Homo sapiens: one gene and its partner. The protein of the gene in region 1 purifies or fractionates together with the protein of each later gene. This does not show direct contact. Each region holds a gene or a part of one and is shown in the gene's direction. Other genes may lie near its edges.

Evidence for each region. Proteins that work in one complex are often made in the same cells at the same time.
Region 2: the proteins of ACYP2 (region 1) and GFPT2 purify together in Homo sapiens (affinity purification with mass spectrometry; one large-scale study listed by BioGRID and IntAct). This does not show direct contact.

What each region holds. Positions count from the first base shown.
Region 1 is NC_000002.12:54,302,289-54,306,897, forward strand, and holds the end of ACYP2 (acylphosphatase-2), read left to right. Parts: intron 1-2,399; coding exon 2,400-2,514; 3' UTR 2,515-3,012; downstream 3,013-4,609. UniProt on the Homo sapiens protein: Its physiological role is not yet clear.
Region 2 is NC_000005.10:180,301,337-180,305,844, reverse strand, and holds part of GFPT2 (glutamine--fructose-6-phosphate aminotransferase [isomerizing] 2), read left to right. Parts: intron 1-905; coding exon 906-1,073; intron 1,074-3,260; coding exon 3,261-3,422; intron 3,423-4,236; coding exon 4,237-4,281; 3' UTR 4,282-4,508. UniProt on the Homo sapiens protein: Controls the flux of glucose into the hexosamine pathway. Most likely involved in regulating the availability of precursors for N- and O-linked glycosylation of proteins.

The sequences.
Region 1 (4,609 bases):
GACGTTGCTAAACACAATGGCCAGTTCTCATTTCTCACCTCACTGGCCCTGCCAGCAGCATTGGCCTGGTGGATCCCTCTCTACTTCCTGAGGGCTTGATTGGGCTCCCTGGGCACCAGTTTTTCCTCATACCTCACTGGATGCTTCCTTCTCTGCCTTTCCTGGTTCTTCCTCTGCTTCCTGAGCACTTCACATTGGAGAACCCCCAAAGTACAGTCATTGGACCTATCTTTTCTATCTAGATTCATTTTCTTGATGATCCCAGCCAATCTTATAACTTTCGATACTTTCTATCTGCTGACAAATTCCAAATTTTATATCCTCTAACCAGACTCATAGGTCCAACTGCCTACTCACCATCTCGCTTTGGATGTCTAACAGACATCTCAAATGTAACATTCCAAAACTGAGCCTCTGATCTTCCCCTTCCCCCAAAATCTGCTCCTCTCACAGTCTCTCCATTTCAGTAAATGACAACCCTATCCAACTAGTTACTCACACCAAAAACTCTGGTGTCATCCTTCACTCCTCTCCTTTTCTCACACCCACATTCAATCTGTCAGCAAATCTACTTTTACTATACCTTCAAAATATACTCAGAATCTGAATCCTCCTGACAACCACTCTGCTAACCACCCTGTGCAAGTTACTATCTCTTAAGTGTCTCTCTTTTCTCATCAATAACTGGGGGCAATAATAGCCTATGACTTACAGGGTTCTTGTGTGGAATAAAAGATAAGACATGTAAAGAACTTAGCATAGTGCCGAACAAATTGTTAGTGCTTGGCCAGTCATGGTGGCTCACACCTGTCATCCAAGCACTTTGGGAGGCTGAGGAGGGAGGATTGCTTGAGGCCAGGAGACCAGCCTAGGCAACATGGTGAGATCTTGTCTCTACTAAAATTCAAAAAAATTAGCCAGGTGTGATGGTGCGTGCCTGTAGTCCCAGCTACCTGGGGTACTGAGGCTGGTGGATTACTTGAGCCCTGAAGGTCAAGGCTGCAGTGAGCCATGATCATGCCACTGCACTCCAGCCTGGGTGACAGAGTGAGACCCTGTCTGCACCCTCCCCCCTCCAAAAAAAAAGTTGTTAGTGCTTAATAAATTTTAGCTTTCATTATTATTTGTGGCGTCAGTTTTCTAGGAGGTTTCAAGAAGACGTGGCTAGTAAAGTTGAAGCTATCAGTTCCTTTTCATAAGAACTGAGTTTTTTCTTCAACACATGAAATTTTCATTTTAAAGGTTTTACCTAAATGAGCTAAAGAGAAAGAAGTCCAAACTAATCTCACCCAGTAAAACTGTCACAGATAAGATCCAAATAAAGGGTTAAAAAGCACAATAGCAATTTGAATCATTGGAATTCTTCTCTATAAAAGTAATTTTCAGCTAACCTAGAAAATATTTTAAATCTAAAGTTATATAAGATTGTCACATATCATACTGCATAGCTGTCTACAGCCCTAGCTTCACAACCTGAAATAATTTGGGGATATGAGGAAACTCATAGGATGTTTCTACAACAGCAACTGAGATAACAGCCATCATTTGTATAAAACAGCCTTGTTTTATAAACCTAAAGTCCCAGCTAATTAGTAATAGGTAGAAAGATTCTGGAAAATCCTCAGTGTTATCTGAGATGTCAGCAATATACAATAGGCCTGAACTATATAGGAAATATCTTGGGTAAGTGACCTAATGCATAAATTAGATGTGTGGATATCACTAATAAGATAAACCATTGCACTAAATAAGAAGAAAAATATTTCAGAGCATTCAACTTGTCCTTTAATGCAATCACTTTGTTAATATATGTGGTAAGAAACAGTATTTGAATAGATAAAAGTAGATGAGCATTTTTTCTTAATATTTTTCAAAAATTATGTTTCTTCTTTATTCTTTAAGTATGGATCTCTTTCATTATATATATGTCTGTGTGTGTGTGTGTGTGTGTGTGTGTGTGTAGAGATATATGTATCTCTCTATATACACATAAATACATGAAACATCTACCACGTGCTGAGTAATGAGGAAACAATAGTGAATTGTTTTTATTACTAAGCTCCTTATAAAAATATTTTGATCGTTTTGAGTATAAGAGCCAGGTAACAGTGGCCTTGGAGTGTTTTAAGTTGGCGGGTGGGGGAGATAACCCTAATATAAAATCATCAGGAATTGACTGTGCTTAATTTATTAGATTTTCTTCATCTGTATTTAATTATACATTATACTCTGTGGTATTCTTAGAGTGATATATACAATGTAAACAAATTTAAATATCACATATATGCAAAAATTACTTAGTAAAGGTAAACTCCCATTAATACCTACTGTGGGCTCATTTTAGCTGATCCATGTATACTTTGTATGCTAATTTTATTTATTTATCTGTTTTTTTATAGGAAGTCCTGGCTGAGCAAGGTTGGAAGCCCTAGTTCTCGCATTGACCGCACAAACTTTTCTAATGAAAAAACCATCTCTAAGCTTGAATACTCTAATTTTAGTATTAGATACTAATAGAAGAGAAAAATTGTAACACACTGAACAATAGATACTGTATGTTCTTAAGACTATGTATACTAGAATAATAGTAGCAGAGTAGGGTGAAAAGGAACTTTCTGTTCTGAAAGCTAAGCGACTGTACGTGCTACTAAAAATGTCTGACACTGAAATAATTTTACTCAACTATGTTTTCAACAAGCAAAAATATAGTATTCTAAGATTAAAATGTCATTACAAAATATTTAGTGTGAACATTTAATTTAAACTTGTCTCATGGAATCTTTAATTTCAATGAACATTACAGCATATATATGTTATTTGGCGAGACATCAAATAAAGTTAACCATTTAAAAATTATTTTCATATACTGTTGTCTATGTTGAATTATAAAATCCTCTGAATAATTTGTTACTACGGTTATTTGTTATTAAACTCTTCAAAAAGAACCAGTGATTAGAAATAAATGTGATGATCAATATAACCATAAAATATTATCAACAAAGAGTTTTAAAATTCTGGTTAATGTGAACATTATTTGGTTGGAGCTACTTTAATGCCTTCTATATTGTTGTGTGCAGTGAACATTCAGGCTGAATGATGGTGGCTAACAAGAACTCGCAATTTCAGTATAGCAAGCAGCAAGATTTTCAACCACCACCCACAATAGATGTCCTATTAACCAGAAAAGAAACCGAGAGTCTAAATGAATCCATACAATACTGTCCCCTAAACTTGGCCTATCTCTTGGGAAGCTTCACATGTAACTGATAAAGCAATGGAGAATTTAAAGGGGAAGGTTTTTTCTATAGCATAAAATGATAATGTTAAAAAAGGAAGACCTTTAATGAAAAACACTGGGGAATTTCAAGTGTTGTAGGCATATACTTGCACATATTCCATGATTTTCAAACTTTTTATATCAATGGAATCCTTCCTTAAACCAAAATTTTATATAGAATTGAATACGTAAGTTTTTAAAAAAAGCAAAAACAAAGCACAGCTGGTGAAAATAAAGTGGAGATGGGCGTCCCCAGAGCCTTGCATACTTGGTGTCCCTTTCTCTACTTGGACAGTTTCAAATACCTTGCTAGTACACTTTGAAAACTACTATTCTATCTAAGGAACAAATCTCTATTGCTATCCTCCATGGCCTGGAGAACGAATGCAGGCCTCTTTCTCTTCTACCTATGCAAGATAAGAAATGAGGAGAGATGAAGGGGGCGGGGGTGAGTTTGTTCATTGGAAAGGTTAACTCCTTGATGATAATATTGTTATCAAATGTATATAAAACAACACAACATTAGGGAATGACTTTCCAAATAAAGGACTAAAGAACTTTCCTATTATTCTAATACCATCATCATGTTAAGTATTACATGTTTCAAATGTCACGCAGGAGAAGCTATTGAGATGTTCTTTTGGATTTTGCTCTCCTTCTGTTTCCCCACTCCTGATTCAAGAAAGGTTGACAAGTCTTTGTGTTCCCTTATTTCAGGGGAAGCTTTGGGTGCCAGATCCCCCTGAAGACAACCTTTCTTCCAAAATTTCATTTTAAAGAGGGCATTATCCTGTGAGTTGAGGAGAAAGACAAATGCTGGGCTTTTAGGGGGTAAAAGAGAAGCAGAAGTTGTGAGAGCCAAAGAAGACAAGGAGATTATCCAAGACTTTGGAAAGGAACCAAAGGCTGTGGATTACCCAAGTCATGGAGACCTGCACCTTTCTCCCCAGTGGCACCTCTACCTATAGCTAAACCTGAAAGGGAAGCAGCTGTAGTTCCCAGAGAAGCTAGATCCCAGGCCCAGGGGCTTCCAGCATTAGCAGGATTCCTGTCCCCAAAAATGCTTCAAAGCATCCTACAAACACCAGGGTGGTTACAAGGGACCATGGTGGTTTGAACAGTGATCATAGCAATTGGTATGCGCTGGACACCGAGAGGTATTTCCTTAATGTTTTCTCTGCATATAACCCTTTGCATGCTGCTTCTGAGAGAGGGAACAAAGCACCAGGGATGACTAAGATATCCACCTCCAGACAGGATGAGGCTTGAAGCAGGCTCGCTTTGATTTGGAGAAAATAAAATAGACATTTTTTTCACCCACAAGTTTGAAAA
Region 2 (4,508 bases), on another chromosome or scaffold:
TTCTGACTCCTGTTAAAGAACAGGCAGGTGCTGCTTCTTGGAGTGCAGTAGAGGCAAGGCCTGGGGTGCACTGTCAGTCCCCAGATGACTCTGCGTCATGGGTGGGGGCTGAGCTGCGGTGGCTGAACGTGCTGGCGGGAGATGCACATTGCAGCTATGCCTCCGCATGAGTCTGCTGAAGGAAGAAGCGTTTAGGTGGCTGCTGGCACGAGCCCATGGTCCTCTGGTCACTGGGAGGCCGGCACTGCAGCTGTCTGCGCCTCCAGACTGGAGCCGCACTCCTTACAGTGTGGCCCTGACCTAAATCAGCAGTGCTAGCGGGGAGTCGAGAGATGATTTATTTGACTGTCTCACCATTTCAATGACGTGGATTTGTGGTAACTGAATAGAGATGGATCTACCTGAACACAGGAAAAAAATTAATTCAAATAACACCCCAGTTTGTGTGATTTTGCTTGGAACCACTCTTTAGAAGTTATTAATGGGCAAATGCTTAATCAGATAATTAACTGAAGGTGTAGCTAAGCTGAATACGATGCTGTCGTTATACACGTGGCTGGCTAGGGAGGAGCAGGGGGTGAGCTAGGCTGACTCCGACTTGTTTGTCCTAAGGGGTGGCTGTGCGTGGGACTGGAGAGAGACAACAGCAGTGCCCGGGGCTGGTGTGGGGACACAGAGGTTGTGTCCCGGGCTGGTGCATGCTCTGGATGGTAGCCAGGCCTCTCCCCAGGCCCTTGCTGGGTGTCCTCAGTGCTGTCAAGCACTCCAGGCATCTGTCTGCCTTGCAACCCTTGGCTCTCTGCCTTCCAGAGTCATCCTTCCCCTGGTTCCCCTTCTTCCCCTCTGGCTGATCTGCTCCAGCCCCATCTGCCCAGTGTGACTCTGATCTCACCTCCTGTTTCCAGAAAATTAAAGAGATAACCTACATGCACTCAGAAGGCATCCTGGCTGGGGAGCTGAAGCACGGGCCCCTGGCACTGATTGACAAGCAGATGCCCGTCATCATGGTCATTATGAAGGATCCTTGCTTCGCCAAATGCCAGAACGCCCTGCAGCAAGTCACGGCCCGCCAGGTGAGGGCTCTCCACTGGACTGGGCCAGCTCTCTCCTGCTTTTCCCCATGCATGCCCACCTCACCACTGTCTGCCAGTACCAGTGATGGATGGTCTGGCCAGTGAGTGGCTGTGACCACACACCCTCCCCCGGGCCGCCTGTGGGGAGTGCACACACTTGGAAAGGAGCTGGTCAGCCCGCAGCTGTCCCACACAGCTCTTTGGTGGGGCCCAGGGACCCACACTGCTGTGAGCAGCACCAGATCCTAGCCTGGAGCTCAGGGGAGGTACTCCTGGTGGACATCCCTGGGGCAGGGTTTCCCCAGGTTCTGCGGCCAAGCAGCTCCGATGGGAACTACCTGGAGTTAGGTCAGGTCTCATAGGGCAGGGGCACAGCTTTCCATAAGACTGCCCTCGATTCAGGCACCTGTTGCAAGCCAGGGGTCCACCCACACATCTGAGCAACTGACTATGAATCCAAGGATTCCCACTCTCCCCTGAAGTTCAGTAATTTTCTAGAACGACCCATAGAACTCAGGAGATGACTATATGATTACAGTTTTATTATAAAAGATATAAATCACAGCCAACCCAAAAGAAGAGACCCCTAGTTTGAGGGCCCCAGATGTGAAGCTTGTGTCCTCAGGATGTGTCACCCTCCCAGCACGTCACTGTGTGTCGCCCGGGAGCTCCCCTGAGCTGCTAGCTCCAGTGTCCAGAGTTTGTATTGTGGTTTTATTAAGTAGGCAGGATGGAGTGAACCATTGGCCATGTGATCAAACTCAGTCGCCAGCCCCACTTTTGTCCTTGGAGGTTGGGAGGTCAGACTGACAGGCTCATGTCTCAAAGCCCCAACCTTCTAATCATGTGGCTGGCCTTTCTAGCAGGGCCAGACGCCATCCTGGAACTATCTACAGGCCCACCACGAGTCGTCACCTTAGCATAAAGTTAGGTATAGTCCAAGGGACCTCCCATAAATAACAAAGATGCTTTTGTCACATGGGAAAGTCCAGAAGCCAGGAGCTCCCTTCCTGGAACCGGCCACAAAGACCAACCAAATGCTTTGTACACAGCAGCTGCCCTGAGGTAGGAGGGCAGAGTTCATGAAGTTTCGGGGAGGTGAAATCCAATGAGGTGCCCCATCCAGATGTTGCCACCTGGCTCAGCACAGAGGTCAGAGTGAGGGTATAAAACACAATGGCATCATTTCCCCACTTAAAACCCTCCCATACCTGCCTGTCAAGCCACAGAGACCCACAGTCCTGCGTTATCTGGCCCTTTCCTCCTGTTTCAGTGAGTTCCAGGCACTCCAGCTTTCCTTCTGCGTCCCACTCTCATTGCGCCCGCGCCCGCCTCCGGGCCTTTGCGCTGGCCGCTCCTGCTGTCTGGAATGCCCTTCCCACAGAATGCTCCGCCGAGGGTTGTCCCCTCATCATTTAGGGTTCAGTCCAGATGTCTCCTGTTTTTGAGAGAGCTTTGGAGACCTCACCAGTCTCCCAATGACATTATCCTGTTTTCTAGCCTTGGTGGCATTTCTTTGGAATTCATTTTTTTTTTTTTTTTGTGACGGAGTCTGGCTCTGTCGCCCAGGCTGGAGTGCAGTGGCGCCATCTCGGCTCACTGCAAGCTCCGCCTCCCAGGTTCACGCCATTCTCCTGCCTCAGCCTCCCCAGTAGCTGGGACTACAGGCCCCCGCCACCACACCCGGCTAATTTTTTGTATTTTTTAGTAGAGACAGGGTTTCACCATGTTAGCCAGGATGGTCTCGATCTCCTGACCTCGTGATCCACCCGCCTCAGCCTCCCAAAGTGTTGGGATTACAGGCGTGAGCCACCACGCCCGGCCTGGAATTCATCTTTATTTCTTGGTTTGCTTGTCTAGGTTTTTGTTTTCTACCACTAGACTATGAGCCCCGCTAGAGTTAGGAGTGAGTCTGCCCCGCTCTCGGCAAGGCACAAATGGGTGCCAAATGATGCAGCAGGATGGCAATCTCCTTACCAGGGAAGGGGAAGAAACCCCCAAAAAGCATCAGACACTTTATCCTTTCCAAGCATTTGTGTCCCACACATACCACCTCACCCATGACTCCAGCAAATGCAAAAGAGGACTGTTCTCATCACAGTAATGTAGCTTCCAGATACTCTGTATGCATCAGGGATAGCTTCTTTCAGAGAGGGTCTATTTTATGATGCTATTTCTCTGCTCTAGGGTCGCCCCATTATACTGTGCTCCAAGGACGATACTGAAAGTTCCAAGTTTGCGTATAAGACAATTGAGCTGCCCCACACTGTGGACTGCCTCCAGGGCATCCTGAGCGTGATTCCGCTGCAGCTGCTGTCCTTCCACCTGGCTGTTCTCCGAGGATATGACGTGCGTCTAAAAACTGCACCTAACAGCAGAGAGGAGAGACATAACCCCAGAGTTCCTTTCTGTTCTTTAAATACTTGGAGTAAATAGTCATAGAGTAAATAATTTTATTTAAAGTAGCTTTCTTTTTTTTTTTTTTGAGATTGAGTCTCGCTCTGTCGCCCAGGCTGGAGGGCAGTGGCACAACCTCGGCTCACTGCAAGCTCCACCTCCTGGGTTCAAGCGATTCTCCTGCCTCAGCCTCCCGAGTAGCTGGGACTACAAGCACCCGCCACCATGCCTGGCTAATTTTTTGTATTTTTTGTAGAGACGGGGTTTCACCGTGTTAGCCAGGATGACCTTGATCTGACCTCGTGATCCACCTGCCTCAGCCTCCCAAAGTGCTGGGATTACAGGTGTGAGCCACCGCACCCGGCCCAGTAGAAGCGTACTTATGAACCATTCCTACCTTTCCTTCCCACTCCACCCTAAACAAATAAGTCCCATGGAATTCATATATATTCTTGCAAGAAAAGTTAATTTTTAACAGTACACACCAAGTTACCTGTGTTTAAAAGCATGAACCTTATTCTTTAAATCATGTTAACAGATCATGACACACATCAGGTGCACAGTAAATGTTTATTGAGGGACTAAACCTTATACGGTTAAATGAGGCTTCTGGACTAAGGAATCTGCCTCCAAGACGCAGGTCTCTAGGTTGGTGACCATGGTGAACATCTGTCTCTTGTTTTTAAGTACTCTGAAAATTGTCTGTGAGAGGTAGCATGTTGCTGAGATCTTTGGGGTCCTGAACAGTCACTTTCTTTCATTTTAGGTTGACTTCCCCAGAAATCTGGCCAAGTCTGTAACTGTGGAATGAGGCTGAGACCGTGACAAGACCATCACCACCTTTCATCTGATTCCAGACCTGTCCCAACAGCAGGGATGCTACATGGGAAGAGAAGTGGACATCCCACATGTTCTGCGTGCTCCTGTAGAGCTTGACAGCTTCCACGTGCCTTCTACCCAAGTGCTTTTGCTTACAGCAGATACTGTTTCTCTGTGTCCTGAAGTCGCCAGAGGAGAAGGGAATCATTGTTTACACAT